Homo sapiens: one gene and its partners. The protein of the gene in region 4 purifies or fractionates together with the protein of the main gene of each other region. This does not show direct contact. Each region holds a gene or a part of one and is shown on either strand. Other genes may lie near its edges.

Region 1 (7,554 bases), on a different chromosome or scaffold from region 4:
CCCGTGCCCAGGCTGTGCCGTCACCCAGAGGGCCTCTCCCACTCAGCTGCACTTGGCCAAGTGCAGCTGTGCATGCGACTGAACTGAATCTGCCTGGCGCAGGAACCTGATCCTAGCGCCCTGACCCTCCTATTTGGAGAGCCCAGGCCTCTCCGCACACCTCTGGATACTTGGGATTTTCGCTGTGGTAGAAAAAGTCTCCACGGCGAATGATGTCCACATGAGGGTCCTCCAGCTTGGATAGGCTCAGGGACTTGAAGTTGTCGACTTTGTCGATGAGGCCTGAGGGGACCAGAGTGGTTAGAAACCCAGGGGACCAGGTGAAAACCTCAATCTGCAAAGTCCCTGGCCTGACCCCCTTCCACTGCACCCCTGGAGCCTGCACACGTGGCACTCCCACCTGCAGTGCCTCTTTCTGACTCTGTCTCGTCCACGGCTTCCCCTGGGTTAGACCATCTCCTCCAGGAAGCTTTCCCTGTGCCCTCTCCCACCAAGTCAGAGTGACCACAGCACTGGGAGTGGCCTTAGCCCTTTTCCCTTCCATCAAGGTTACGGCCATCCACGTCCAAGCCTGACTCACCTCCTGGGTTGAGAGCTACTTGAGGGCAGGCCCAGCTGGCACACAGGCACCATCCAGCAACAAAGCACACAGAAAGCGGCCAGGCCAGGCCCAGGATCATCCAGCCTCCCCAGGACTATCTGGGCCCTTGGTATCCTCTCCCACCTTCATGGGTCAGGCCCAGGAACAGAGCCCCAGGGTTACTCTGGCCCATGGTGCCACCTTATCCCTTGCAAGCTTCTCTTTGGAGTCAATGGGGGATGCCTGTGATAAGCTAGTGCCTTCCTGGGACAGGTGGAACTCAGAGAGGGGGAGCCCTAGGCTGAGAGCACTGAGCCACCACATGTCTACTACTAGCCGGAGTCTGCTTGAGGAAGGACTGTCTCAGCAGAGTCTACTCAGCAGACACCGGCACGCAGCAGGGTGAGGATGCATGCCTGAGTCATTCTCTGGAACAACCCAGATTTCAGAGGAACCTGGTAGGATGGAGTGGGGTGGGGGTTTCTACGTCAGCCCTTGCTTCCTGGGGATTCGCCTTCCCCTGGCCCCCAAAGCATGGTGCTGGGAAAGGTGCAGACTGATCCTGTGCCTTTAGCCCTCTGAAGGCTGAGTACTGGGAGCTCCGGCCCTAGGGGGGCCTTGTGCTTCTGGCACGAGCTCCTCTGGAGAGGCCTGAGACTTACCTGACGAGAGGAAAAACCTGCCAATTTGGACAAAGGGGGCTGTTGCCATGAATGACTCCACTGCCATGGCACTGTGGGAGAGAGGAAGCTGTCAGAGATGGGCACCGGTGTGGGAGCTGCCCGGGTCCCTTTGGGTTGTTTGTGCTGGGCAGGGTCCCCACCCGGGGGTTCCTGCAAGTCCAGATTAGCCCAGGCGCAGCAGACATCTTGTCCTGTCCACCCCCAGGGGCCCTGTGCCCCCTCCCCTGGGCTGAGCACCCTCACTCTGTCTCCTGTTCCCCGGAGCTTCCTACCCTCTTGCCTAGACCCCTGCCAGCCTGTCCTGCCCCACCCACTGCTGTCAGATGTATCTTGCATGGACTTTACACCCCTCACTAGCCCCTCCCAGAGCATTCCATCCCAACCATCTTACTGGCACAGCCCAGACCATTGCTGAACAAGGCCTGCTCTCTAGCCACACCCAAGTGTTATGCCCGCCTCACCACTGGCATGCCGTGGAGCTAACCTCCCTCTGCTGAAATCCTGAGAAGCCTGAACAAATGCCGCTGCCTCTGGAAAGCCTGTCCTGATTGTCCTCCCACCCATGGCAAACCATTAACAAAATGCTTCCCCGGCCCCGTGTGTGCAAATCCCCTTAGACGCTTAGTGCAGGCCTTATATTTGTGACTTGTTTGCGGGGAGCTTGTCTGGGGTCAGGGGAGACAAGTCTCTGTGTTCCTGGTGCCCAGCACAGGGCTTGGTCTCAAACCCATGTCCCACATTTTCAACCCACGAGGCAGGATTAACTCAATCCTGTTATTCAGATGAAGAAACTGAGGCTGGAGACCTGCCAGTGTAGACAAAGCTGCACTCAGGCCTTGGGCCTGGCTCTCACCTGGGGTTTTTGTGGCCAATCTCTCGGTCGAAGTTTTTGCTGTTGATGATTTCTGACCTCCATTCAGTGTCTGCTCAGGGAGAGGAATCAACTCAGAGCCCGGGTAGGAGTGGCACGCGGCTGAGACCCACCAGCCCAGCTCCTCCTATCTCACAGCCAAAGGGGTGGGTCAGGGAGCCTCAATGGATGGGTGGGAAAGCAGGGCTCTGAAGACTTGCACCCAGGGATCCTGATGCCTGGTGCTGAATCCTTCCCATGGCCCCACCAACAGCCCTGCTGTCCAGCCACCACTGTGGGCCCCCACCATGGGCAGAGACCACGTAAGGGGCCCAGCACTCACTGTAGGAATACCTCGTCTCCTTCTTCACCTGCCCATCCTCGGTGTACTCCCTGCAGGGAAAGCAAAGCAGCCACGGGGGTTAGCCTCGTCGCCCCAGGCAGTCTAATCTCTAAGCATCTGAGCAGGAAGCAACCTCAGGGCTACCAGATCAGACTCCCCAGATACGGCAGATGCCTTCTCTACACCAGCCCCAAGACAGGGCACTCACTCCTGACAGACAGCCAGCTCCTGCCCTCCAAGGCGCTACCTGGAGGAAAGCGCTCTCCCATCCTGAGCTGAAATCTGCCCGCACTGGCCTTACACCAAGGGGCCCAGCCCTGCCCTTTGGGCTCAGAGATCTGGCTGCATCCTCTGCTCCAGGACAGCCCTGCGGGGGGCCTCTTGAAGCTGCCCTTCTCCTGCTCCTCCCACCACCTCCCCACCTGTCGGTCACAGTCCATATGATTCAGGTGGGGCTGAACCCACCCCCAGCTCCAGGTGACCCCAGCCCTGATCAATGAGAACCTGCCCTGGGACTCCTGTCAGAAACGATAAGCTGTAAGTAGAGCAAAGATGGGACCAACACAGCTGATGGGAAGGCTGAACACAGAGAGATGCAGTGGGGTCTCGGGGTTGACATGCTGATCCTAATGACAGTGTTTCAGGCCTGCTCCAAGTCATGCTTCAAGCTTGTGCATCTCTGGAACTTCCCAGATGTGGGAGCAACTCAATCCCCCTTTCCTCCTGGAGCCACTCTTCACTGGATTTTTGCCACTTCCAAATCACTGGCTATTAATTTGGGGATCATTTCACACTTTTCTGATAGGAAGATGTTATACTTGAGTTTCAAAGGTATCAAAATGAAAGACATCTGCATGTTATCCTGACACCTACACTTCACTCCTCCTTTACCCCAACAGAGTTTTCACCCCAACAGCTCACCTGGACTCCTCAGTTTCTACCCATTGGTACATCTCCACGTGCCTCCGCAGTTTCACAGCCGGAAGATGGACCCCATAGTTTGGATCAGACAAAAGCTTCAAACAGAATCAAAGAAACCAAAAAAATAAAGGATAACATTCACGTCAGCCCAGAAAGCCTGGCTCAGGGGAAGCTGGACTGGAAGAGGAAGAAATAGAGAAGGGGACAAGGGTGGAGAGCCCTACACTGCTTTGCAGGGGAGAATCGAGGACACTCCCTGTCCCAGGTTCTTTACACACAGTGCCTGTGACTGTGACCCTCACAGTACAGGCCTGGGCTGCATGGCCCAATGGCATGGTGCCAACAGCGTACAGGGTGTTCAAATAACAGGAAAGCTCTGGTGCCCAGGGTAGTTTTGTGGCCTTGCACTGGACACACATGGTCATCAGAGTCATGAGAGCACCTCCCTGAGTGCCAGCCACTGTACCAAGGCGTTAGTTACCTAATCTCACCAAATCCTCAAGGCTGGCCACAAGCTTGTAACCATTACCGTCCCCATTTTATACACGAAGACACTGAGACTCAGGATAGACAAGTCCACACAGCTGCTGAGTGGTAAAGTCGGGAATCACTCCCATGTGTGACCATCTCCAAGGCCCATGCTTTCAAATCCTCAGCCAGACAACATCCAGGATGAGCCCCGAGCCACTGGCAGGTCAGCATCCCCTGCCAAACCTACCTTGGATGTCCGTAAGGCGCCAATGATGTGCACCAGCCTTCCTTCATTCTCCGGAGCCACACTGTGGATGCTGTCGGGAGACACCACAAGCGAGAGCCCCTCAGCCAATGAGGTTGCCGTCTTCAATGCGCGGCCCTGGGAGCAAAGGGGAGTGGGGATTTCAACAGCTCAGGGGTGGCTCAGCATGACTGTGCTTGTTGCAAAGTATTAGGGTAGGATGGGGCCTCCGGGAGCGCTGAGACCCATCTCCCCACCGTACAGTTGGAAAACTGAGGTCTAGCAAGTGGAGAGTAAGGACTGGAACCCAGATTCCTGCTTTCCCAGGGAGACTTCTTCCTACTGCCCCATTGGTTCCCACTAGCCCCCACCAATCTTAGCACTGCCCCAGTGGTGGGAACAGCTGATGTTTCTGCCTGCCTGTCCCTTTCTCCCCATTTTTCTCTGCCTTCTTTTTTTTAATTTTATTTTTATGTTTAAGTTTTTTGTAGAAATGGGGTCTTGCTATGTTGCCCAGGCTGCTTTCGAACTTCTGACCTCAAGCGATCCTGCCTCCTTGGCCTCCCAAAGTGCTGGGGTTACAGGCTTGAGCCTCCATGCCTGGCTCTCCTCTCTCCTACTCAGCCCATGTGGTTTACCTGAGTCTATCTGAACCCTGGTCAGATTATGGGACCCAGACCTTGCCAGTCAGAACATGTGAGTGCGCCCTGGACACGGAGACTGATTCAGAGGACGGAGAGCCAAGCCAGGACACTGAGAGATGGCCCTGTAACTGCTGCTAAATTGATTTAGAAATATACTGTTGCATCATGAGGCCCTATTAAAAAAAAGGAGAAAAAGAAAGAGAGAGGGAGAGAAAGAAAGAAACAAACAAACAAGAAAGAGAGAAAGAGAGAGACAAAGGAAGGAAGGAAGAAAGGAACAAAGGAAGGGAGGGAGGGAGGGAGGGGAAAGAAAGGAAAAGAAAGAAAGGAAGAGAAACAGATGGTTTTTCTCTTCCCTGGGCTAAGTGGTTGGATGTAGGCCAGTTGCTGGGGCCACATTTGCCATCACAGATGAAGTGCCTGCCCAAGAAAAACACCATAATAGAGAAAAACAGGCAAAAGATGAAGAAATGGAGATTCCTGGTGACCCAGCATGAACACCTGGATCCAACTACGCCTGAGGCAGGTGCTAACCCCTGGATATTCAGGTGTGTGAACTGATCTACTCCCCTTCCTGCTCACATCAGCTGTGGGATGGATCACAATGGAAAGAACTGTGATTAACTCAGTATCCTCCTTTCTCTTTTTAAAATCTAGGCCCTTGATTACCAAATCCAGCCTCCGGGTTCATCGCCTTTGCTCTCTGACATGGTGGGGACTCTCACTCTGCACAGGAAGACCCCAGACATTTTACCTCATTGGTGAAAATTAGGTAGAAGGAGAGCAGGAAGGCCATGAGCCCCACAAACATCCCACCCGAGGTCTCGCTCAGCCGTTCCAGGAAGCCTGGCTGGGAGCTGGTTTTAACTTTGACATGTTCTCTCCGGGTACTGGTACTGGAATACTGAAGAAAAAGAAACAGTAACAGAATGAAAACTAGTTTTTAAAAATAAATTAAATTTGCTATTTATTTATACTCAATTTTTTTTTTTTTTTTTTTTTTTTTTTAGTTTTAACTGTATGTGGTAAAAACACACAGATATTCAATGTACAGTTTGGCAGGTTTCCACAAACGTATATTCCATCTGACCAACATCTAAAGCAAGGTACAAAATATTTCCATCACCCCAAAAAGTTTCTTTGTGCCCCTTTCCTGCCAATTCTCCCCCTCTCCACCAACCAGAGGTAACTGGTGGGGATGGGGAGAATCTGAATTTGAATTTCTCCTACCGTAGATTAGTTTGTTTCTTCTACAACTTGAGAAAAATGGAATCAGGGCACCAACTCCTTTCTGCCCAGCTTCTTGGACTCAGAGCACTGCTTTTGCAATTCATTCATGTTGTGGTGTTTATCAGGAATTTGTTCCTTTTCATGGCTGAGTAGTATTCCATTTATGACTATACCACAGTGTGCTGAATCATTCGTCAGTGGATGGGTATCTTGACAGCTTCCAGGTTTTGGCTGTTATGAATAATGCTGCTGTGAATATTCATACATGAACCTTTATGCAGACATGTGCTTTCATTTCCCGTAGGAATATACCTAGGAGTACAACTGCTGGCTCGTGAAGAAGATGTACGTTTAACTTTTTATGAAACTGCCAAGCTATTTTACAAAGAGGTTATTAGAGATGTATTTTTAATTAAATTCAGCAAACAGTGGCTGAGCTTTCTGAGGGCAGTGCTAGCCCTTGTGGGGTCAGAAGTAGACAGTCTTAGGGCAGTGAGGTCACAACCATAAACAATACTAGAAGGTCACACAGAGGGTCCTGTGATGGGGGTGGACTTGGTGCTCAAGGAGTGACCCCTTCCACCTGGGGTATCAAGGAGGCTCCCTTGAGTGGAATCTTAGAGGCAGATCTTAGGGGAAGAGCATCCCTAAAGGGAGAACCGTATCAGCAGTGATGAGGAAGTAGGAAGTGGTTCTGGGGGAGCAGCTGCCTGTCTGCTTTGGCTGGGTGGGAGCAGTGGAGGAAGAAAGGGCTTGGAGGTAGGCATTTCTGGGCAGGTTCACAGTGGGCCTCAAACTCAAGGGTGAGTGGATCAGGCTTTGGTCAATAACAGAGGCATGATTTGGGGTGCATCCACTGCTGATCAAAAGTGTCATCGTCTAGGGCAGGATTCTGGAGCCAGAAGAACTGGGTTTGCATTTATGCTCTGCCACATACCAGCTACGGGGTCTTGGGCAAGCAACTTCACCACTTTGTGCCTTCCATTTCCTCTGTGCATAGGGTTGTGGTGAGAACCAAAGAACACAGTTATTGGGTAGCTCAGGGCCTAGGGCGTGGTAAGCACTGGACACGTGTTAGCTAGTAGAAATGTTACCAGATTTCCCTACAACTGATACTGGGCTGGCACCAGGCTGGGGGTGAGCTGACAAAAGTCACAAAGATGTAAAGTGGGGCCCAGCTAAGACAGGCCCCATCCTGGTATTGGGGGCCAGAGGAGTGATTTGACTCAGAATCTCTGCTTGAACAAAGCTGATGTCGCATTCTGATTGTCTTTGAGTACCACCAGCCAAGGCCTCCAGTGACCAGATGTCCATGAATCCAGAAGTCGTCTTGACTTTCCATGCCATTTGGAAACATTAGGTGAGTGAATCACCACATAGGGGCAGGTGACCATCACAATGATGACAATGGCAAACACACCGGGTCTATCACAGGCCAGCCCACAGGCAAGCCCAAAGAGCGGGATGTCATAACGACCCCATTTCACCGATAAGAAAATCGGGCTCAGGGTTACGTCATCTTCCCAGATCACACAGCTTCTAAGAGGAAGAGTTAGGATTCAAATCCGGGCAGACTGGAGGCTACTCT
Region 2 (7,554 bases), on a different chromosome or scaffold from region 4:
AACTAAAATGATGTAGATGTGTGAGAGTGGATGAAGGAGTGAGGATTCTGTCCTACCCTGGCTTCTCCCCATTGTGGTGGTTGATCTTAGGAGAGGGCCACCAAGCTGTGCTTTAGAGGCTTTTGGCCCTGGGCCCTGGAATGCTTGTGCCTAGGTACTGAGCCAAACTGAGGAAAACAGCAAGAGGGAAAAACAAGTATTATTCTCTACATGTGTCAGTAGGTATGTTAAATATTAGATGCCTTTCCTTGGTTGTAAATGAAGTTTTGAACTGAAGTGTAGACTTCCACCGAGATGTGTTGACTTGGAGATGTATTTAAATATCCTTCTTGTTTCTTGGTGTGATTTTACAGTCATGTAATTCTCAACTACATTGCAATACATTTCTCCAGTTAGCTCCTCAAAAGCATTTTTTTTGTGTTGTTTGTGACCTTCTGCTATACTTATGAATACATATATCTGTGTATCTGTGTATGTGTAAAGGGCTTGCGTATGGGTGGTGGTCACTGAAGACTACTTTCATGTTTCAGTGAAAGAGTTCTTTAAAAAAACATATATCTATATCTATATCTATATATCTATATCTATATCTATATCTATATCTATATCTATATCTATATCTATATCTATATATATGTAGAGAGTCCGTTTGGCTCAAGTTTGAGGACTGCAACCCAGGAGCATAGATTCAAGTTGCCCTGAGTAGATGCTCCTATTAGCAGCAGTTACAAATGGGTTTTTAAAGGAAAAAGGAAGAGGCAGTTCCTAAGTTGTTTATCAAGCATTCATGTTACAATAACGAGCTATTGGTTGGCTATACATTGTTCTTTGTATCACACATTCCAGGAACATGAAGATAGTGGGTGAGGCAGCTGTCAGGAACAAAATGCTTTTAAAGAATTGCCCCTGGGAATGGGTGCAGTGATGTGACTGAAGTCCCATGCTCATGTCCCTCTGGGCCTGATAAATTTTGCATAGTTCGCATATCTCAGACTGCTCTGAGCAATTTTTCTTTCTCATTTCCTCCTTTTAATAAAAATCTTTCTCTTCTTAAAATACTGATGATCAACGTTTTGGATGTAAGTTTGTCCCACATTGCTGGGAAGGCTCATTTCCGGATAGTCTTGTCCCATGTCAGAGGGAATGAGATGGGCAGAAGTACTATCACTTAAAAACTTAGTGAGGTTCCAAGGCTGAATTGGTAGGCAACAATTCAGGGATTGGATTGAAAAATAAGGGGACAGAGCAGCGGGATTTCAGGTCATTCACTTACACTGGAGTTGAGGTATGTTGGGTCATTTCTAAGCATCTAGCTATTATGATGAGTTTTTTGTTATAGAATTTTGTGGTAGACTTTAGACATCTAGAAATACAAAGCATAATCAATTTAAGAATCAAAAGGATGACACAAATAAGGACAATTATCAACAAAACAACTTGAAATACAAATATGAAAAGTGTTCCTATTCCTGAAGGTAACCAAATGAATATTTTAATCCACTTCTTGTCCTGGTCTAAAGAACAAAGTGTTGAAGATCTCCACTGAGGAAGATGTCCACTTAGGCAGGGTAGCCTGATATTGGCCCTTCTAACGTGGCTAGGAGTCCTTTATTTGATGGTATTTTCTATTAAACAAAATCTTCCAGGTTGGAGACCATGATCTTTGATGTTTTTGTCTCCTAAGAGCTTGCTGTTAAAAGAATCCTTAATTAATTTAGAATTTTCAGTGAGAAACTTATAAGGCCTTGACAATAGTGAAGAGTATCACCTTGTTAATGGAAAAACCAAACTCTGTAAAATATTTTAAAGAGCTTTATCCTGAGCCAAGATGAGTGACTGTGGCTCGGGGAAACACTTTCTCAAGGAGTCCTGAGAATGTGCACCTGAGGCAGTTGGATTACTGTGTGTTTTTATATATTTCAGGGAGGCAGGAGTTACTGGCAAAGACATAAATCAGTACATGAAAGGTATACATTGATTCCATATGAAAAGGTGGGATATCTTAAAGCAAGGGCTTACAGGTTATTTATTCAGCATATTCAGAGATTTTTTTTTTGAGACAGTCTTGCTCTGTTGCCCAGGCTAGAGTGCAATAGCACAATCTCGGCCCACTGCAACCTCCCGCTCCTGGGTTCAAGCGATTCTTCTGTCTCAGCCTCCCAAGTAGCTGGGATTACAGGCACACACCACCACTCCTGGCTAATTTTTTTGTATTTTAGTAGAGACAGGGTTTCACTTTGTTGCCCAGGCTGGTCTTGAACTCCTGAGCTCAGGAATTTCACCCACCTCAGCCTCCCAAAGTGCTATGATTATAGGCGTGAGCCACTTTGCCCGGTGATTCGGAGATTCTTTAATTTGCAATTGATTAAAGGAGTAAGGCTCTGTCTAAAACTTGGAATCAACAGAAAGGGCTGTTGTGGCTGTGTGTGATGGCTCATGCCTGTAATCCCAGCACTTTGGGAGGCTGAGGCAGGTGGGATCATTTGAGGTCAGGAGTTCAAGACCAGAATGACCAACATGGTGAAACCCCTTCAAAAAAAGGGTGAAACCTCTTTTTTTGTAAAAATACAAAAAAAATTAGCAGGGCATGGTAGTACATGCCTGTAGTGCCAACCACTTGGGAGGCTGAGGCAGGAGAATCGCTTGAACCTGGGAGGCGGAGGTTGCAGTGAGCCGAGATTGCACCATTACACTCCAGCCTAGGTGACAGAGCAAGACTCTGTCTCAAAAAAAAAAAAGGGATGTTGTAAGTTAAGCATGATGCTATGTAGCAAAATTGATGGGTGTGCAGACATGACTTAACCCTCCCCTTGCATACCCTTAAGGTCTTGTTTATAACTTGGTGTCTTATTGCCACAGAGACGTTTTCGCGGTCTTATTTCTATTGTAACATTAATGCTGGTCAATTGTTACGCCTCAACTCCAAAAGGGAGGGAGTAGAATTAAGTGCGTTTGACCTCTCTTCCTATTTTGACTGAGAGCTCAGTTTTTGAGGTTTCTCTGGGGTTTCCTTGGCAGAGAGTGGGTCCACTCAGTTGGTCGAGGGCTTTGGATTTTATTTTTAGTTTACAACTTTTCAGGAGAGCTGGTTCGTAGTCTCCTTCATCCAGGTGCATGGATCTTTCCATTCTTATTTCAAAAGGAGAAAGCTGATGTTTTCCAAGCAGGGTAGAATGTAAGTTAAGCAAATGGAAGAGCCTTAGGCCAGGGAAGGTTAAAGCTTTCTGTAAGCTTTGCCAATTAACTTTTCATGATTCCATTTATTTATTCTTCCACTCTGGAAGACTGAGTGTGGTTTGCACAATGGAAATGCCGATCCATCCAATCTCAATGAGCTTCAACCACACAAGATAAGATTTCTGGCGGAGCATAGAGGCTAATGCCTGAAATCCCAGAACTTTGGGAGGCTGATGTGGGAGGATTGCTTGAGCTCAAGAGTTCACGACCTACCTGGGCAACAGAGTGAGACCTCATCTCCACAACATGTGGTAGGACTTCCAAAAATGGAGAATGCAATGAGTTCATGCTGGTACCAAGCACTGATTTTAGAGAAAAACACCAGGTGGTGGTGGGAAGTCACTGTGAATCCTGCTGACCTAAAGAAAAAAAAAACCAAGGCAAAATTAATGTAATTATAGAGCTTTATTTGGGCCAAGTTTGAGGAATACAACCCAGGAGCATAGATTCAAGTTGCCCTGAGTATATGCTGTGAAAGACTTCTTTATAAGAGGCAGAAGCTGGCATTATTTGAGATTTGGGTGTAAAAATTATAATTCAATTAGCTTCCTTTTCCTTCCCTTATGATCCATTATCTTAACTCTAGAATATGGAAGGAAGAATGTTCAAGCTAAGTCTCTGCTCTTAATCAGACTTGGAGTTGACATTGCTCCTTTGGTTTATAAAATTTGTTATCTGTCCAGCCATAGTTGAACATTTTAATTTCAGAATAACCAGAGCATCTTAAGAGGCCAGAGAAGTGTTCTCTGTGTCCCTTATGGTATTTGTTTCACATGTTCTAATAAAATACATAAAGGATTCCTAGGAACCCAAGACTGTTGTTTTTACTATTAGGCAGAGGATAGTACCTGACACTCAATGTCAGCTTTTAATTGCTTGAATGAATGTACTGCATTTTTTGTTAGACTGAGCCACACTTTGATTTGGAAAAGGGGAAGATGGGAAGACTAAATACACAAGCAGGGACCCATAGGGTCTGTGATGGTCAGGAATCCACATAGAGATGACACTTGGGTATAAATTCAGGGGTAAGATTAAAACTGGGATATAATTTTATTTGGGTATAGGGAGATGGAGGAGATAGTGAAGGAACAGAAGTACCCAACTAAGGTGAAGGTGCCTAAGAAGAAGGCAGACGGGGCCTCTGTGATAACGTGGATTCAGAATCAGAAATCTAGTCAGTGAACATTCTCTCAGGTACAGACACTCCAAGTGTGGCAGTCGGCATGTATGAAGGAGAGCCTCCTTCACTTACACCAAGGCCTCTTTGGTTTTGATAACTTTGCTGCCACACCCTGAATTCAGTCTTTGTGATTCTTCGCTCTTCTTCAGCATTGCTTTCTGTCCCTTCTTTTCTTCTGCCTTGAATCTTGTTCTGGTATTTCTTTTTCACCATTTGTAGCTCAGCTGTTTCCACTCCATGTTGTCTCTTTCTCAGGGATACGTAGCTACTGTTTCAAAAGCACTTTGCTAATTTCTATTTCACTTGTTTAGTTAACTTTGGACACTCAGTTTTGTCATCTCCTGCCCCCATCATATCCTAATCATGACTCTGAAGAAAATCCTTGGTGGTCACATTGAGAGACCTTATGTGTTCTGTATAATAAAGAACTGGGGGCCATTAACCTTTCTAGAGCATTTACAGAAATTTTTATCTATCAGCCTTTTTTTTTTTTTTGAAACGGAGTTTCACTTTGTAGTGCAGGCTGAAGTGCAGTGGAGTGAACTTGGCTCACTGCAACCTCTGTCTGCCTCCCGGGTTCAAGTGATTATCCTGCCTTAGCCTCCTGAGTAGCTGGGATTACAGGCGCACACCACCACACCTGGCTAATTTTTTTTTTTTTTTTTTTTTGTATTTTTAGTAGAGACAGGGTTTTGCCATGTTGGCCAGGCTGGTCTCGAACTCCTGACCTCAAGTGATCTGCCCGCCTCGGCCTCCCAAAGTGCTGGGATTACAGGCGTGAGCCACCACGCCCGGCTGTATCAGCTTTTCATCTTCATCCAGCTGACTCTTTTTATCTTAAGTAGCAATGTTAAAGGTAAATGAAAATAGTTTCATATTCAATTTTGCTCTCAAGTTTGATGACTACCATTGTAAAATATTTGTGTGACATTTAAGATACAGCAAATGTATTTCATCTATATTGTGGCCTTTTTGTACAAGCCAGAGAACTTTATCATGATTTATAACTTCTTTTTTTTTCTTACTATGGGGAGAGGCATTTAAGTTCCAGACAACTTAGGAACAAATAAGCATTTGGAATACAACTTGTAATTAGAGATCTGCTTTTGGTTAAAATAAGCATGCCTCCATCAACCATAAAATACCCCCCAAACAAGAAAAAATAAACAAGAAACCTTTTAGCAAATGAGCTCAGGGCCGAACATAGATTACTCTTCTAAGCATAAATCTTGTGCAACAAAACCTGATACTCAGAATTCTGACCCAGCTCGAAAATCCCTTGTCATCGGATAAAAACTAAGTTATGCATTTACCAAGGAAAGACAATGTAGGAACACATTTAAGGTTTTTCAAAAGAGTGACCAGAATGTTCAGTTAAATATTAACGGGAAGACTATTTTCTGAGTATTCTAGTTATCTGAGATTTAGTTGCAAGAATTAAGATATCTGTAGTGTCTTTGAAAAATTATTTTTACCTTTTTTTACTTTTAGTTTTTAGAAGAGGTGTTGGTAGAAGTGTAGGTGGTAGAAGTTTAGATGGTTATAATCATTTTTGTAGCACTTGGCAGCTTTAAAAAGCATTTCCCATATATTTTTGATTGATCCTCAATACTCAACAACTGTGAAATAGGAAAGTATGATGACAGTCAATTCTGCTTTACAGATAAGGAATCTGAGGCTCAGTCAGGGATTCAGTCAGGTTTCCATGCAGACATTATTGTGCATAAAAACCACCTGGGAAGTGTTAAAGACAGAGATTCCTAGGCTCCAATCTCAGTGATTATGATTTAATAGATTTGGAATGGACCCAAAGAATCCTCACTTTTTAACAAGCACCTCAAGTTATTCAGATGTAGGTGGTTGATTTACTCTACTTCTAGCAACAATGGGCTAAATTTATAGGCAAAAGCCACACCATTAGTACATAATAGACTATGATGGTAACTGGAAGGACTTTTATCTACAGATTTTTATCACGGACTAATAGCTAATGCCATCCCATTCATTTGCTAAATGTTATATCCTATTCATCAAGCTTGGCCTGCTGTTGGGTTTCCAACTCTCCTTTGCCTGCTTCAGTATAACAATGTGTAATTAGAACCTAAGAAATTTCTGGTGTGGTGATGCTAAAGCTTGCCTCTATATTGAGATATATATGTGTCTTTGGTAGTTCAGTGATGAGATTTTCCTGGGTGGAAGCCAAAATTAGTGCACTTTATTAGTGTGAAGTCAACAATCAGCTGTTTCTGGGAGCTTCCAAAGTAGGTATACTTTTGGGAAATTGTGCTTTTCTTCTTAGTTTGAGTTTCCTTCTTGGCTTATTTTGAAATGTAGTAGAATAGAAAAATAGAGAGTTTTGATAGAAAGTGATTTTGGGATGTGTGGTGGCTCATGCCTCTAAAGGAGACCGAGGCAGGAGAATCACTTGAGGCCATAATTTAAGATCAGCCTGGGCAATATAATGAAACCCCATGTCTATCTCTCTCTCTCTCTCAATCTCTCTCTGTCTCTCTTTCTTTCTCTCTCTCCATACACACACACACACACACACACACACACACACGTGTGTATGTACATATCTCCATATTTTATATATATGTATAATATGCATAAGAAAATCATTTTGGAGGAAGTAAATTGTCACAGCGAATTGTCACAAGTGTTTCTCATTTATGGATTGACCATTTTCTCACCGTATTTCAGGACTTTGCACAGACTTAGCTGGCAAACATCCTATAACAGGTGTGATTTGAGAGTCTTAAAAAAAAATCACTATCTTGGTTTTCAGGTGAATATTTTTGAGAAACTAGCTTGTTCCTAAAGATGTGTTTCCCGATCCCCCTCCTGCTTAGAAAGCTTTTTTTGACGTTAGCAAGCATCTGGGGGATCTTGATGCTCTCTTATGGTTAGAGAGAGAGAATTGAAAAGAAACTCAGTAGATTAAGACATTATTTGCCCTTTCACTGTGTTGACTTTTACACCGTGGTATTAAAGGAGTGATGGCACCTTAGCAGACGTCATTGCAATGACACCAATTGTACAAGTAGTCATGCACTTGCAATAAAAAAAAAGCCATTTCACTAAAAAGAACACCTTAGATGTTTTATTGCTTAGATGAAGCAATAAAAATGTCC
Region 3 (7,832 bases), on a different chromosome or scaffold from region 4:
ATGGCAGAAGAACGTGGATTGTGAAGATTTCATGGACATTTATTAGTTCCCTGAATTAATACTTTTATAATTTCTTATGCCTATCTTTACTGCAATCTCTAAACATAAGTTGTGAAGATTTCATGGACACTTATCACTTCCCCAGTCAATACCCTTGTGATTTCCTATGCCTGTCTTTACTTTAATCTCTTAATCCTGTCAGCTGAGGAGGATGTATGTCACCTCAGGACCCTGTAATAATTGCATTAACTGCACAAATTGTACAGCATGTGTGTTTGAGCAATATGAAATGTGGACACCTTGAAAAAACAACAGGATAACAGCAATTGTTCAGGGAATAAGAGAGATAACCTTAAATTCTGAGTGCCGGTGAGCCGGGCAGAACAGAGCCATATTTCTCTTCTTTCAAAAGCAAATGGGAGAAATAACACTGAATTCTTTTTCTCAGCAAGGAACATCCCTGGGAAAGAGAATACGCACCTGGAGGTATAGGCCTATAAACAGCCCCCCCCCAGGTGCACCTGTCTTTTATGGTTGAGACTGCAGGGGATGAAATAGACCCTAGTCTCCCATAGGGCTCCAAGGCTTATTAGGAAGAGGAAATTCCCGCCTAATAAATTTTGGTCAGACCAGTTGATCTCAAAACCCTGTCTCCTGATAAGATGTTATCAATGACAGTGGTGCCCGAAACTTCATTAGCAATTTTAATTTTGCCTCGGTCCTGTGGTCCTGTGATCTCGCCCTGCCTCCATTTGCCTTGTGATGTTCTATTACCTTGTAAAGTACTTGATGTCTGTGACCCACACCTATTCACACACTCCCTCCCCTTTTGAAAATCCCTAATAAAAACTTGCTTGTTTTTGCGGCTTGTGGGGCATCACAGAACCTACTGACATGTGATGTCTCCCCCAGACGCCTGGCTTTAAAATTTCTCTCTTTTGTACTCTGTCCCTTTATTTCTCAAGCTGGCCGACACTTAGGGAAAATAGAAAAGAACCTACGTGAATATCGGGGCAGGTTCCCCAATACTATTCACAATAGCAATTCTTGGAACCAAGCCAAATGTCCAACAATGTTAGACTGGATTAAGAAAATGTGGCATATATACACCATGGAATACTGTGCAGCCATAAAAAGATGATGAGTTCATGTGCTTTGTAGGGACACGGATGAAACTGGAAACCATCATTCTCAGCAAACTATCACAAGGACAAAAAACCAAACACCACGTGTTCTCACTCATAGGTGGGAATTGAACAATGAGAACACATGGACACAGGAAGGGGAACATCATACACCGGGGCCTGTTGTGGGGTGGGAGGAAGGGGGAGGGATAGCATTAGGAGATATACCTAATGTTAAATGATGAGTTAATGGGTGCAGCACACCAACATGGCACATGTATACATATGTAACTAACCTGCACGTTGTGCACATGTACCCTAAAACTTAAAGTATAATAAAAAAAAGATTTATCATGTATTCTTAACATTTTGTGTGCATATACATACATTGTTTTGTCTTAAATATACTCTTGTAATGTTAGGAAATTTGGAAGATTTTCCGTGTCACTATACACAGTTTTGTTTTGTTTTTTTTTTTTTAGAAACATAGCCTTGCTCTGTTGCCCAGGCTGCAGTGCAGTAGTGTGATCATGATTTACTGTAACCTCGAACTCCTGGGCTCAAGCAATCTTCCCACCTCAGCCTCCCAGGTAGCTAGGACTACAGATGCACATCACCACACCCAGCTAATTAAAAAAAAAAATTTTTTTTTTTTTTTTTTTTTTTTTTAAGAAATGGGGTCTTGCTACATTGCCTAGGCTGGTCTCAAACTTCTGGACTCAAGTGATCCTCCTGCCTTGGCTTCCCAAACTGCTGGGATTACAGGCGTGAGCCACTGTGCCCAGCCTACTTCATTCTTTTGTTTTTGTTGTTGTTGTGTGTTTTTTACCTAGAACCACCTGAATAGTCATTCTTCATTCTTTATAGCTGCACAGTTCCTATTGAATGAATAGGACACCATAATTTATTTAATAATTCCTCTGATAAAGGACATTTCAGTTATTTCTACTTTTTGTTATTACAAAGCAATGCTGCAATGACCATTATGTTAGTCCATTTTTGCGTTGCTTTAAAGGAATGCCTGAGGCTGGTTAATTTATAAAGAAAAAAGTTTATATTTTGGCTCATGGTTCTGCAGGAAGTACATCAAGTGTAGTGCCAGCATCTGCTTCTGGTGAGGCCTCAGGAAGCTTCCAATCGTGGCAGAAGGTGAAATGGAGCCAATGTATCACATGGTGAGAGAGAGACCAAGAGAGAGAAGGATGAGTGCTCTTTCAACTACCAGCTCTTGTATGAACTTATGCAGAGAGAACATACTCATTATCCTGGGGATGGCACCAAGCCATTCATGAGGGATCCACCCCCATGACCCAAACATCTCCCACCAGGCCCCACCTCCAATGCTGGGGATTACATTTCAACATGTGATTTGGGGGGGCCAAACATCCAAACCATAGCAAGCATGCTTCCCAAAAAACAAAATATATATATATATATATATATATATATATATATATATATATATATTCTGTTTTTTTAGGGTTTTTTGTTTTCTTTTGTTTTTATTTTCTTTTTAGAGACAATATCTCACTTTGTCACCCAGGCTGGAGTGTAGCTCACTATAACCTCCAACTCCTAGGTTCAAGCAATCCTCCTGCCTCAGCCTCCCAAGTAGCTGGGACTAAAAGTGCATGCCACTGTACCTGGCTCTGTAAGATTATTTTTTAGTGACTGTTTACTCCACTAGAATGTAAACTTCTTGAGGGCAGGGGCTTTATTTGTTGCCATATCCCCAGTACTTTATTCCTAGTGCCCAGTATATAGTTAAGTGTTTAATAAATACTTGAATGCTTACTACTTTACACCCACCAGATGGACAAGCATGAAGTCTGAGAATACCAAGTGCTGACAAGCACGTAAAGCAAGAGGATTCTTGTATCCCGCTGAGAGCGAAAATTAGTGCATGTGCTTTAAAGAGCAGTGAGATAACTCAAATATGGATATTCTAGCACCAACCATTTTCATTCCTGACACATATTCAATACACTTTCGCACAGGTGCTTTAGGAGAAAGGTACAAGAATTTTATTGTAGCATTCTTTGTATTATATTGCACAAAAGCACTATACAACATTGTACAAAAGCATTGTAGAATTTGGTGTATTTCTCTCTCTCTCCCTCTCTCCACACACGTATCACAGACATTTTTTTTTATTCTGAATCATTTGGGAATAAGTTCACGACATCATGACCAAATAAGAAAGCTGCAGGATTGACATTTACAAAATATTCAAAATATGCAAAACGGTACTATAATATTTATAAATACATACATATATAACAAGCAGAAAGATAGGAATAGGAATAATAAACACTAAATTCAGGCAAGTGGCCGTCTTGGGGACGCAAAAGGAAATGTGTTCAGGAATGAATACCTGGAAGCCTCGCTATCTGGAATATTTTTCTTAAGCTGTGTTGAGGGTACATATTTGTTATTGGCTGTACCTTTTTTGCAAGACATATATTTCAAAATTTTTAAAAGCATTCATTTATTCCTATTTTAATGAGAGTTTTTAAAAATCAGGAATGGGCTGGGTGCAGTGGCTCATGCGTGTAATCCCGACCCTTTGGGAGGCCGAGGTGGGTGGATCACCTGAGGTCAGGAGTTCGAGACCAGCCTGGCCAACAAGGTGAAAACCCATCTCTACTAAAAACACAAAAATTAGCAGGGCGTGGGGGCGCTCCCCTGTAATCCCAGCTACTCGGGAGGCTGAGGCAGAATCGCTTGAACCCAGGAGGCGAAGGTTGCAGTAAATCGAGATCGCGCCACTGCGCTGCAGCCTGGGCGACAGAGTGAGACTCCATCTCAAAAACAGAAAAGAGAAAAGAAAGGGAAAAAAGGGAAGAAAGAAAGGAAGAAAGCAAGCAAGCTCAAGGGTTCTCGGGGTGGGCCATCCCCGAGGCCATCCGCAGATTTTCTCGCACTCTTTGCTCCACCCCCACGTGCAACAAGGACAACCGGCTGCCGCCTCCAGCTTCCAGCAGGGCTAGAAGATGCGCTGCCCGGGGCGGCCAGAGCCCTGCAGAACAAACCGCCGCACGGAATTAGGGGCCGCCGTCCGCGCCTGCCAGGCTTGGAAGCGGACTCGCCCCCAGGGCCACCGCCCTAGGAAACCTCCCGTCGGAAGCCTCCCAAGCAAGCCGCTCACCCGCGGCTCCCGCGCGAGGCGGCGTGGGCGTGGGCGCGGCCCTGGCGCGGCGGCGCGCGCGGGGTGAAGGGAGCCCGGCGCGCTGGCTGCGGCGACGGCGGCCGTTGCTGCGCCGGGTACTGGGGTCGCTGCCTGAGGCGCAGGCGCCGTGGACTCCACCCGCCCCGGGGCCTGGGCTCGCTGTGGACTCGTCATGGCGACCGAGCAGAGGCCTTTCCACCTGGTGGTGTTCGGCGCGTCTGGCTTCACCGGCCAGTTCGTGACCGAGGAGGTGGCCCGGGAGCAGGTGGACCCGGAGCGGAGCTCCCGCCTGCCCTGGGCCGTGGCGGGCCGCTCCCGGGAGAAGCTGCAGCGGGTGCTGGAGAAGGCGGCCCTGAAGCTGGGTACAGCGGCGGGGCGGGACGGGGCTGCGCGGGCGGCTGGGCCGGGGACCCCGCATCGCCCCAAACGAGCGTTTCTCCCGCAGGGATGCGCCCTACGTGTCCCCGAGCCCTGCGTGAGGACAAGAAGAGGAGAGGGAGAGATGTTTCAAATACTGCCATAGCTTTGTCCCACCTCCTTAACTATATGTGTGTGTGCGCGTGCGTGTATAATATACACACACATTTTTTTTTCTTTCCTTCTCCTCTTTCCCGCTTTTTGCATTTCTGCCTCAGTTTGGGGAGCTCCCCTGGCGAAATGGTCAAGAACTTGAGTTGTCCCTCTCTCTGCTTCATCCTGCCCCGCAGCGGGGGCACCTGTTGAATCTGCGGGTTTCTAGATGTTTGGTCGGAGAGGAGAGGAGGGCTTTGGTCTCTTGGAGATCGGAGTCTCCCTTTGCCTCGTGTTTTGAGGACGGGAGAGCAAGCTTACGAGTTGTACTGACAGTGTCTTTGTGGCTATTCTGTTTTAGTTTCTTGTTTTGTGTGTAAGAATACTCCAGCAGTCTTCCTCTTCAGAGAATAAAAAGTGTGTATTTCTGGTTTAGACGCTTACGTATTCTCTAAGCATTCAGGTAGCATGTATTTATTGATAATCTAAGCATTCAGGTAGCATATATTTATTGATAATCTAAGCATTCAGGTAGCATATATTTATTGATTCTCTAAGCATTGAAGGAGCATATATTTATTGAGTGACGTTGTCCATGCTAAGACCTGTCCCGAGTCTGGGGTGCAGGATGGGACAGAGAGGAGACAGACACACGGATCCTGCTGCCTTCATGGCTGGGGAGACATCTGACTTACGACTCCGTAGCCTTTAAATTTGGCTATTAACTCCCGTAGATTTCCCTTATACAGACACCCATTAGAGTTCTGGAAATACTACATTCTTTCTGTTTAATCTACTTTCATACAATGCCCTGCTCGGAGTGCTTTTGTTCGTGGTTATGTACAGAAGACACCACGTAGGCTGGACTCTCCTACAGCTTTTGGTGCTGACACTACCAACACGTAATTCTGACCAAAGAGCTTTTTGGTCGTTATTTTTCCAACAGAAGTAATTTTACTATGAAAATATATGCTTCCATTTCTTTTTTCGGCTCAGCAAGATCGTACCGGTACAGCCTAGTCACTTATCATATATAATGCCCAAATCAAGTTTCATTGTGGGGGGATATACCTTCACCTATTGAAACCTGCATCACTTAGTTGAGCCAGTTAATTCCAATTATTTTCTTATGAGCCTGTGTGTGTTTATATAGCGTGTGCTTTTCACCTCAGAGTTCTAATTTTTTGTTTTTTGTTTGTTTGTTTGCCATTCTCCTGCCTCAGCCTCCTGAGTAGCTGGGACTAGAGGCGCCCGCCACCACGCCCTGCTAATTTTTTTAGTAGAGACGGGGTTTCACCGTGTTAGTGAGGATGGTCTCGATCTGCTGACCTCGTGATCCACCCTTCTCGGCTTTCCAAAGTGCTGGGATTACAGGCGTGAGCCACTGCACCCAGCCCTGATGGTTTTGATGTTAACAGTCAGTCCGAAACTCTCCATCACCTACAATTGGATCATAGTAATTGTTTAGTGGTTGATGAGAAACTTTATTTTTTTAAAGACAAGTTCTCATTCTGCCACCCAGGCTGGAGTACAGTGGCGTGATCACAGCTCACTGCAGCCTTGACCTCTGTGTCTAAGTGATTCTACCGCCTCAGCCTCCTGAGTAGCTGGTACTACAGGCTATGCCACCATGTCAGATAATTTTTTTTTTTTTTTTAGTAGAGACAAGGTCTTGCTATGTTGCCCAAGCTGGTCTGGAACTCCTGAGGTCAAGAGATCCTTGCACCTTGACCTTCCAAAGTGCTGAGCCACTGCCCCTGGCCAAGAAACTATTTTATGACATAAATTTCTTGTTGGAGAGGAAGTCTGGATAGTTATCTGCTCAGCATTTAAACTTGATTGTGAAATTGTCATGTTACACAGGGTTGTTATTTACACAACGCTTTGATTCGATTTTTTTTAAAAGGTCAGTTTTTTAGTAACTCTTAGTGTTAACTCAGTTTTCCTCATAATTTTTTCCTTTTGTATTACCTGATTAAAAACAGTTTTATCTTTTGTCTAAGCAGGAGAGCTAGCTTTCAGCATATCAGTGTATTTAGTAATTTGCTGTCACTGATTACTGTAAAAAGAAGATAAGGAAGATATAATCCTCTACTGGGATTTACTTTCCTTCATTTGTTTCTTATTTTAGGAAGACCAACACTGTCATCTGAAGTTGGAATCATCATCTGTGATATTGCTAATCCAGCCTCGCTTGATGAAATGGCTAAACAGGCAACAGTTGTCCTCAATTGCGTAGGACCAGTAAGTAATCAACCCTTCTTTGTATCAGAACAAACAATCCATTCATTTCTAGCAAAATATTCCAGAGGAACATAAGGACAGAGGACAGAATTGTTGGTTGAAGGCCTTAACCCCATATGGGGAGTTTTTTCTTCTTGCGAGGAGCAGCTGGAGATGACCAAAGTCTCCTGAGAGAGTGAGTGACAGGCTCTCCATGACGTTCTCCTTAGGGCATGTGTGCTGGCTTGTTGATTGGTTACATCTGTGATTGTCAGAATTTTCTTTCCTTTTTACTATATACCCCTTCGGTAAAAAATGTTTGAGTGTGTCTCCCTAGTATATTTTTTATTTATAAATTATATTCTTGTACTACTGGGTAAATATATTTTTTAAATGCACAAAAAGAAGACTAAAAAACGACTCATTTATTGAATAAATATTTATTGATGCTTACCACATGTGAAATGCACTATTGTAGGCACCTGGGACACAATGGTGAACAAAACAGAAAATCCCTCGTGGACATTACGTTCTTGGGGAAGACAGAAAAATAGGATTGTAATAGGAGGTAATGAAAAGTGCTTTGAAGAAAAGTGAAGCCAAGAAAGGAGAAAAGGTCCTGGCATATTGGTGTTTTTAGATGGATGGTCAGGGAAGGTTTCTGTGAGGAATTGACATTTGAGCCAAGATCTGAATGAAATGAGAGCAAATTGCATGAACCTTTTGAGGAGAGACTTTTCCAGGGACAGCAGGCACAAAGGTCCTGAGATGCCAGTGTGCTTGGCAAGACTGAAGAGTGTGACAGA
Region 4 (8,378 bases):
ATTAAATTCACATCCTTTGCATGTTTCCCCTCTGCAAGTGTAAGACAAGATGGCCCACTCACAAGAATTGTGCAACTTTTCAAATAATTTCACAAGTGATCTAAATGTGCTAGTGTCTTGTGTTCCTACTGCCATAAGCCAATTTCTACTGGGAACGCCCTCCTACTGCCTCTTGGCTTTTCCAAAATTTAGGCCATCCTCTAACAGGTACATTTTATTCCTTTGGGTTTTGTCCAGACACTGGAGCTCTTGATCCTTTTCCTTAAATGTCCATAATATTAAACAAACAAAAAAATTGAACCAATCCTTTGGCATTTATGAAGGTGAGCTTTAGAAAGTACATTTAATGAGCACCCAATGACAGAAACTATATTAAGCATTTGCTTTAATCCTGTTAACAACCTTGTGAGGCAGATTTTTCCCCCTATTATTCAGAAGGAAAACTGAGAGTCAGAGAAATTAGGTAATCAAGAGACTATATTGTGTAGTAGTTCAGTACATGGGCTCTGGAGTTAAACTGCCTGATTCAAATCCTGACCACCATTTAACCACCTGAATTCAAGCAAATAGTCTCACTCGCCATGCCAGAATTCCCCTACTGTAAAATGGGGATAAGAATAGTACCTATCCCATAAAGTTGTTGTAAATACCAAATGACATTAATAAAATAGAAAGCTCCCAGACCACAGCCTTGTGCACATACCTGACCTTTACTGAGTTGCTTTCACACACTTCATAATAGGGTTTTGCTTTCCCAATCTAGGCTAGATGACATCTGTTCACACAGTACTAGGGTGACAAACACCTCTGAGTGCCCAGCACTTTCCTGGTTTTAGCACTGAAAGTCTTGTGTCTGGAAACTCCCTCAGTCCCAGACAGGGAGTGTTGTATACCCTACCCAGTACCCTAACCATCAACAGCCAGGCCACGAATCATCTCTATCTGGAACCGGGGAAGTTACATCTCTCCCTGATGCTAATAATAAGAATGCTAAAGCTACTTGCTATTATTTGTATCAAGGTAACATCAGTAACCCACATATTCAAGAGATACACTTTCCCATTTTACTGCCAAACTGTTCTAGTTTACAACTCCAGCTCCTTAAGAAAATTTACCAGCTAAATCTAAATGAATCTGCAAAGATTAGAATCAAATCACACTTTGGTCTCCCCACCACTACTACAAGGGGACAGACAGCCTATGATTAGTGATTTTAAAATTCTACAATATATATCTCAAAATGTCTGCTACTTAAGGAAGAAAAAGAAAAACACAACTTATAACCAGTAGCTGACCTAGTTCTTCATTTCCTCAAAACCACCTGTAAAACAAGGTTAATATGCTTTTGACCAAAAACAGTAAAAATATATCTGAGACTACGTCTTATTTAGCTTTATATCACTAGCACAGCACTTTGCTACAGAATTCAATACTCACCTAAGTACACACTAATGCAAAAAAAAAATAGTAATATAATTCTAATACTTTTTCTACTAAGTCTGTATTTCAAAAGACATTACAATGTGAATCCTGTTCCACAATTAACTTCCATGGGTGAAGTCTGAGTTTTCTCTCACAAATCTTCACAAAATCTGGGTGACTACATTAGGAGTTCTCCTTTTATAAATTAACATTTTTGCTCATTTAAGTTTGCTTAAATGAGACTGCCTGCTAGTGAAAACAGAGCCCTTATTTTTATTTTTAAAAATATTTTACCTTCACACCGAAAAGAAGATTCACTAACCGGCTTAGAGATATATTGATACTAAAAATTAAGGCTTGAGCAGTAAAGCAGTAGAAATATTAAAGGTGTATGTGAAATGGCAGTCAACGAGAAATTCAAGTTTCTTTCTGGTATCTTCTTTTGAGGCTTTAGTAATATGCAAGTACCTGTCAGAGAAGGCAAGATACACAAGATGTTCTGGAGGTTTGAAGAGAGACATTAAAACGTAAATATTTACCTCTTTTTCTAGTTTTAAAACGCTGGCCTGATAGCGTTGGCTTTTGCTGCTTTTGATTATTCATAAAAGACACCCTAGGAAAGGAGAAATAAAGCCTTAATATCAGTGCCATAATACTAATTTTTAAAGCAAAACATCAAACCTTAGTCTAGTCACATATGAATCAAATGGAACACCCACTCTCAGGATATAAAGCTGGCAATTATACCCGATACAGGCACAAAGAATTACCTGCACTTGAATCAAATGTACGTCAAAATGTGCATTTCTCTCTACAAGAAACCCTTCAAATTAGTGCTGTGAACTACTTTTAAGCGACATTGTAGTGCTACAGTGATCACCCGTCATAAACCTAATTGTTCAGTTTTCTCCACATTCCTCTTTACATTCACTTACATCTTCCACGACCACTAAGCATCGCAGAACGCAAAGAGAGATTATCACCATAGTCAGCAGGCATCCAAAATGTGTATGCCAATTCTAAAACACTGTCAAAAGGTGAACCCCTTCTTCTGACAAGCCTGGTTACGGGCAGCACCATCCTACCCTAGGTCATGCCTGTGACCGCAACAGCGGCCGCCTTGCACCACTCAGGCCTGCAAAACTAACAGCCAGCCCAGCCTCCTTCGCCCATATCCCACAGTCCTAGCCTCCTCCCCGGTAACGTGTCTCCCAATCCACACCCTTCCCATGCCTCCCGCCCGAGCCACAGATCACCCGCTTCCCGCCCAGGACCCCATCGGCCACAGCGGGGCGCCGTAGGGTCCCGCGGCTCTTTCTCCACTGACCCTGTCGCCTGCGGTGGCGGCCGCCGCAACGAGCGGACCACAGTCACTGAGGCGCTTTGCGCCGGGGCCCCAGGCGCCCCGTACATCCGCCCGCCCTCCAGCGAAAGCAGCGGCGGAGGCGGCGGCCGCAGCGGTGGTGGGTGGCAGCCCCTCCGCCCCGCCCGCCGGAAGCCCCCACGCGTACATCACACAACAGAGGCCGCGGCGGCTTTGTTAGCCAGGCCGGGCACGGCCCAGAGGGAGCCCGCCTCGGCCACTGCCTTCGCAGCCAGCGCCGCGGCGCACACCCGGACCCCACCTCCCCACCCGGGCCGCCGCTACCCCTCGGCCTCCCTGCCGAAGCGGCGGCCTTTCAGGCCCTAGATCCGGCCCGGCCTCAAGAGGCGACCTCCGTTCGGGCCCATCCAAGCCGGGCCGCATCCAGCCCGCCGCCTCCCTCTCCCTCTGCCCGGCGTCCACGACCCGCAGCGTCCGCCCGGGGTGAGCGGGGCGCCGCGTCTCACCGAATTTAAGGCGAAGAGGAAAGAGCCAGAAATCCCCGATGTACCGGCAACTGCGGCGGTGTCTCCTCTGCGACCGGAACTAACGCCAGGAGGAGGGAGAGGTGCCACCCCCGCCCGGACCGCTCTCCTATCGCGAGATTTCTTCCCCTTGCCCCGCCCTGATCGTGGACAGGCGCTTCCGCCTTTTCTATTGCGCGCGGATTAGGGTGAGGGACTGGGATAGGGGAGGGGAGAGACGTTTCCAGTCTTCTTTATTCCCTTACTGGGTTCCACGTCGCCTGGACACTTGTCCTAGACTAGCTTATTTTTCTTCCCCCGCTGCGTCGTCCGCCCTCTTCACACATGGAGGGGTTGGAAGAGCGGAGCCGGCCCCCGCCGGTCTCGAAGTTGGACGCGTCCTCCTGGAGTCCCTCGCCGCCGGCCCCCTCCTCCAGCACCGGAAGTCGAAGCCCGAGGGCGGGGGGCCCTCGGGTCGTGCGGGGGCGGAGGCTGGGGGCGGGCATGGGGGCGTGGTTTGGGGAAGGAATCCGCACCTCGCCTCCGCCCTGGCCGGGATGGGCGGAGTTCGCTCCAGCTGAGTCCCCTGCCTGGCGACTTTTCTCTGAGGGGCTGTCTCATTGTTCACTACCTCCCTTAAGAGCGAAGAGGACACAGGCCGAAGATTGAGAAGGGGAAATTCTGTCCTCCAACCGCGGTCCCTGCGCGCTGCAGCGGTTGTCTCCCGAGTGTGGTGGCTATGGGGACTTGGAGAGCATCAGAATCCCTTGGAGGACTTGTTATAACAGACTGCTGGGCCCCACCCGTAGTTTCTCATTCTGTAGGCCTGGTGTGGAACCCATGAATGTGCATTTCCAACAAGTTATCTGTGATGCTGCTGCTGGTCCGCACCTTGAGAACCCCTCAGTTAGAGGCTATATCATCAGGGAGCTGGGGTACGATCAGATTAGATAGTGCGTGTGAAAAGCACTGTGGACGTGACAAAACTCTGTGCAGATAAAGATGCACAGCGCCTCTAGGATGTAGCCCCATGTTTTTATTCACTGTACAGTAGTTTACTTCTCTCCAGTTGCTTCCTCACTCTCTGGTAGGAGGAGAGTGGCTTCTCTTCCCTAAACCTTTTGATAAAATAGTTTGTTGACTTCTTTTCCCTAATTAACTATCTGACCTCTACCCCACCCCCCCGCAACTTCATGGAAAAATGACTTTCTCAGCGTTCGTTCCTGAAATTATTGCCAAACCCAGTGTTTTATTCTTCACCCTGTTTGCCTCCTCTGAGCATTGAATGTTACCTACCTCTCTCCTTGAATCCTGGCTCCAGCTATCCTGGTTACGTTCTGAATGTGCCTTTGCACGGTATTTTCTGACTCTTCTTTTCTGTACTGATACCTTTTCTTTCTGGATACTTTCTTCTATGGCAGTCTCATACATTCTCAAGGATTTAACATTTACTCCACTTAAAAGAGTTCCAAGATCATCTACTGAATCATTAAGCAAATATTTGTTAAATCCAGGCTCTATGCCCTTCCAAGTTGAGGCAACAGCAGTGGGAAGGAGGCAGGAAACAAACTGCATCTGTTGGAGGAACTGCAAGAAGCTAGTGTGATTGGGAGGGCTGTGGGGAGCAGAGGGAAGTGGCTGGAGTCTGATCTCTAAGTGTCTAGCCCCTTCCTTTCTCCCAAGGCCCCAGTCCACACTATCTGGCATCTTCACTTCATGGCTAATTTAACACTGTCAGTGCTGTCAATTGCTCTTCCCCCAGAACTGTATTTTTCACATCTGAAGTTCTGTTAAAGGACAACGTTTCACAAATAAAAATGATAACTAATATGTCCCTATATGTATCAGGCCCTCTTCTATGCACTTTATGTAGTAACCCCATTTCATCCTGAAAACTACCCTGTAATCTAGACACTATTATTAGTCCCATTTTACAGATGGAAAAGCCGAGGCATCGAGGTCAGGTAACTTGTCTAAGATCATAGCGCTAGTAAGTGGAAGAGGTCCAGTTGAACCCAAGCAGTCTGGCTTCACCATTATAATGCACCGCCTTACCACCAAGATCTTATTTATTCATTCAACAAATATTTATTCAGCTAGAGACCAGTAGAGATAGTGACATGTTACGCCTATGGCCTCACAAAGCTTATCTTCTATTTTTGCCACGTTTTAAAATTGTATCATCTTTCCCCAGTACCATCTTGATTTAGGCATCTATTACCCCTAACTAAATGGGACTTTTGCAATAACTTCCTAACTGTACTATCCCCTTTCTCAACATTTCCAGAGCAATCTTCTCAACTGCAAGCTGAATCATTTCTCTTCACTGTTTAAATGCCTCTGTTTATACTCAGGGATAGCTCTGACCAATGTTTTTCACCTTTACTTCCCATCACATTTGTGGTTCTTAACCTGTTATTACCATCATTGTGGGGTATGTAGCAAATGATTTTTGACTAAAAATGATATTAAAGTAAGCAGATTATTTTCTTTAAAATGTAAAGTGGATTAAAGGTTTTCCTGAACTCCTGGCCTCAAATAATCCTCCCACCTTGGCCTCCTGAAGTGTTGGGATTACAGACCACACCTTGCCACTTATCTTTTCTCTGCTTTTGGGTGCACCCATGGGAATAGGCACCGTGCAGCTAGCAGGGGAAACGTTGTTTGTGAATTGTATTATGGTAGGAAAAGGTTCCAAACAATTGAACTCTATGCTTTGGTCAGACAGGACACATCTTGTCTTGACCTTTCTTGAGATGTCCTTCCCTCATTTTCCACTGTCAAAATCCCACTATTGTTTCAAGCCTTATCTCAACTACTGCTTTTTTCCCATAAGCCTTTCTTAGTCATGGATGTGAACACATTCCTTCTTTGTAATTGGGCTACAGGCATGAGCCACTGAGTCTGCTAATTTTTTTTTTTTTTTTTTGGTGATGATGGGGTTTTGCTTTGTGGCCCAGGCTGGTCTCAAACTCCTGGCCTTAGGTGAGCCTCCCGCCTCAGCCTCCCAAAGTGCTGAGATTATAGGTGTGAATCATCACGCCTAGCCTTGCCCAGTTTTATGGTTGTTTTGGGAAAAAGGATATGCTGATTTCTTCACTCTGCCATTGCTGTGAATCCCCCTTAGTACTTTTGGATTTAAAAATTTTGAACTACTTAAAAAGAAAGGTGCTAAGTGCAACATGTGAATGTGCTACTGCTTTTAACTTCATTGATGGGAATGGATACCTAAGTGTTTCTTTTTTAAAAGCAAGTGACAATAGGTTTTTATTCCTAACAACTAGAAGAATATCAAGGGCCTGTTTTGAAAAGCACATTGTTGCCCTTGGAAAATGAGCTGGGGGAAGTATTTATTCCTATGCTTTGAGTCTTGTAGAAGCTTATAGAACATCCTATGAACCTGGCTTAAATATTGTAGCATATGTATATGAAATACTTCTAGTTACACACACCTATATATGTATGCATATATTTATGTATGTATGTGTGGCCAGAAGTATTTTCATAGGCTCCACAAAATTTTTACAGTGAAAAAGCTTTGAGGTACAATGAGCTTTTAAATAATTTCATTTTAGGTAAAAAATGTGTTAAATATCATTCACTTGCTACATATCTCATATATACCATTTCTTTTACTTCTTCATAGAATTATTTTAATAGTTATAATTATTAATAATATTTGACATAATCAAGATAAAAAGCATTGCTTAGTTACATTAACATTTTAGTAATATTTGTTAAATAAATACCCTCTTTTAGCAAACACACTCTATTATTTAGATTTTAGTTTTTTTTTTTTTTTTAATAGAGACAGGATCTGGTTATGTTGCCCAGAATGACCTCCAACTCATGGGCTTTAGCAATCCTCCCACCTCTGCCTCTCAAAATGTTGGGATTTATAGGCGTGAGCCACCACACCTGGACTCGATTTTTGAATAGGCCGAAATAATTGGGAAGCTTAGGGATTCAAGAAATTTGGCATACATGCATTTTCTGTTTCTCTCTCTCCCCTCTTAACATCAGAATAATGACAGGTTAAGGTGAAAACTCTTTGCTCCTGTAAAGTGCTTGTTCAGAATATAGTTTGAAGTGAGTTGCCAAATAAGTGATATTTGGGGTGATTTAAATATGTGCATTCTAAGTTATATAGCATTCAAGACATTCATTAAAACGAAGCAAAATAAAAACCAACAAGAGAACAGTGTAATGGCATGTGGTATGTTAGCTATAGGATTGTTTAGAAAAAACTGTTTACTGCTTATTATTAATAGTTCATATCTCCTAGAATATTACTGCAGAACTGAAGATTAAGAAATGTTACTAAGAGGCCGGACGTGGTGGCTCACGCCTGTAATCCCAGCACTTTGGGAGGCCGAGGCGGGCGGATCACGAGGTCAGGAGATCGAGACCATCCTGGCTAACACGGTGAAACCCCGTCTCTACTAAAAATACAAATTAACCGGGCGTGGTGGCGGGCGCCTGTAGTCCCAGCTACTCAGGAGGCTGAGGCAGGAGAATGGTGTGAACCCGGGAGGCAGAGCTTGCAGTGAGCCGAGATCCCGCCACTGCACTCCAGTCTGGGCGACAGAGTGAGACTCCGTCTCAAAAAAAAAAAAAAAGAAATGTTACTAAGGACGCCAGATCCAAACATCTCTGTGTTGGAAAATTATCTCCAATGCATAACGGTTTCCTTGGCATATTTAGATGGCCATCTTTCTTTGATGTCTTTTTTAAAACCTACATTTCATTTTTTGGGAGCCTCAGTGCGATGGAATTTTTTTTTTTTTTTTTTTGAGACGGAGTCTCTCTCTGTTGCCCAGGCTGGAGTGCAGTGGTGCGATCTTCACTCACTGCAACCTCCGCCTCCCGGGTGCAAGCGATTCTCCTGCCTCAGCCTCCTGAGTAGCTGGGATTACAGGTGCGTGCCACCACCCCTGGCTAATTTTTGTATTTTTAGTAGAGACGGGGTTTCACCATGTTGGCCAGGCTGGTCTCAAACTCCTGACTTCAAGTGATCCGCCGGCCTCAGCCTCCCAAAGTGCTGGGATTACAGGTGTGAGCTGCCGCGCCCAGCTGATGGAAAGTTTTTATTTAAGATGAAAAAGCAACTAAACTAAATAGAACTTAAT

The links.
Region 1: the proteins of BZW1 (region 4) and TMEM43 purify together in Homo sapiens (affinity purification with mass spectrometry; 3 studies listed by BioGRID and IntAct, with this or other methods). This does not show direct contact.
Region 2: the proteins of BZW1 (region 4) and ENPP1 purify together in Homo sapiens (affinity purification with mass spectrometry; 3 studies listed by BioGRID and IntAct, with this or other methods). This does not show direct contact.
Region 3: the proteins of BZW1 (region 4) and SCCPDH purify together in Homo sapiens (affinity purification with mass spectrometry; 3 studies listed by BioGRID and IntAct, with this or other methods). This does not show direct contact.

Annotation. Positions count from the first base shown.
Region 1 is NC_000003.12:14,127,498-14,135,051, reverse strand, and holds part of TMEM43 (transmembrane protein 43), read right to left. Parts: intron 5,641-7,554; coding exon 5,491-5,640; intron 4,231-5,490; coding exon 4,096-4,230; intron 3,473-4,095; coding exon 3,378-3,472; intron 2,507-3,377; coding exon 2,457-2,506; intron 2,190-2,456; coding exon of another isoform or gene 2,187-2,189; coding exon 2,117-2,186; intron 1,314-2,116; coding exon 1,243-1,313; intron 283-1,242; coding exon 161-282; intron 1-160. UniProt on the Homo sapiens protein: May have an important role in maintaining nuclear envelope structure by organizing protein complexes at the inner nuclear membrane. Required for retaining emerin at the inner nuclear membrane.
Region 2 is NC_000006.12:131,810,804-131,818,357, forward strand, and holds part of ENPP1 (ectonucleotide pyrophosphatase/phosphodiesterase family member 1), read left to right. Parts: intron 1-7,554. UniProt on the Homo sapiens protein: Nucleotide pyrophosphatase that generates diphosphate (PPi) and functions in bone mineralization and soft tissue calcification by regulating pyrophosphate levels.
Region 3 is NC_000001.11:246,719,958-246,727,789, forward strand, and holds the start of SCCPDH (saccharopine dehydrogenase-like oxidoreductase), read left to right. Parts: upstream 1-4,451; 5' UTR 4,452-4,465; coding exon 4,466-4,655; intron 4,656-6,934; coding exon 6,935-7,047; intron 7,048-7,832.
Region 4 is NC_000002.12:200,806,865-200,815,242, reverse strand, and holds the start of BZW1 (eIF5-mimic protein 2), read right to left. Parts: upstream 3,334-8,378; 5' UTR 3,253-3,333; exon of another isoform or gene 3,073-3,252; intron 3,059-3,072; exon of another isoform or gene 2,936-3,058; coding exon of another isoform or gene 2,934-2,935; intron 2,858-2,933; exon of another isoform or gene 2,836-2,857; coding exon of another isoform or gene 2,750-2,835; intron 2,036-2,749; coding exon of another isoform or gene 2,026-2,035; coding exon 1,962-2,025; intron 1-1,961. UniProt on the Homo sapiens protein: Translation initiation regulator which represses repeat-associated non-AUG (RAN) initiated translation probably by acting as a competitive inhibitor of eukaryotic translation initiation factor 5 (EIF5) function.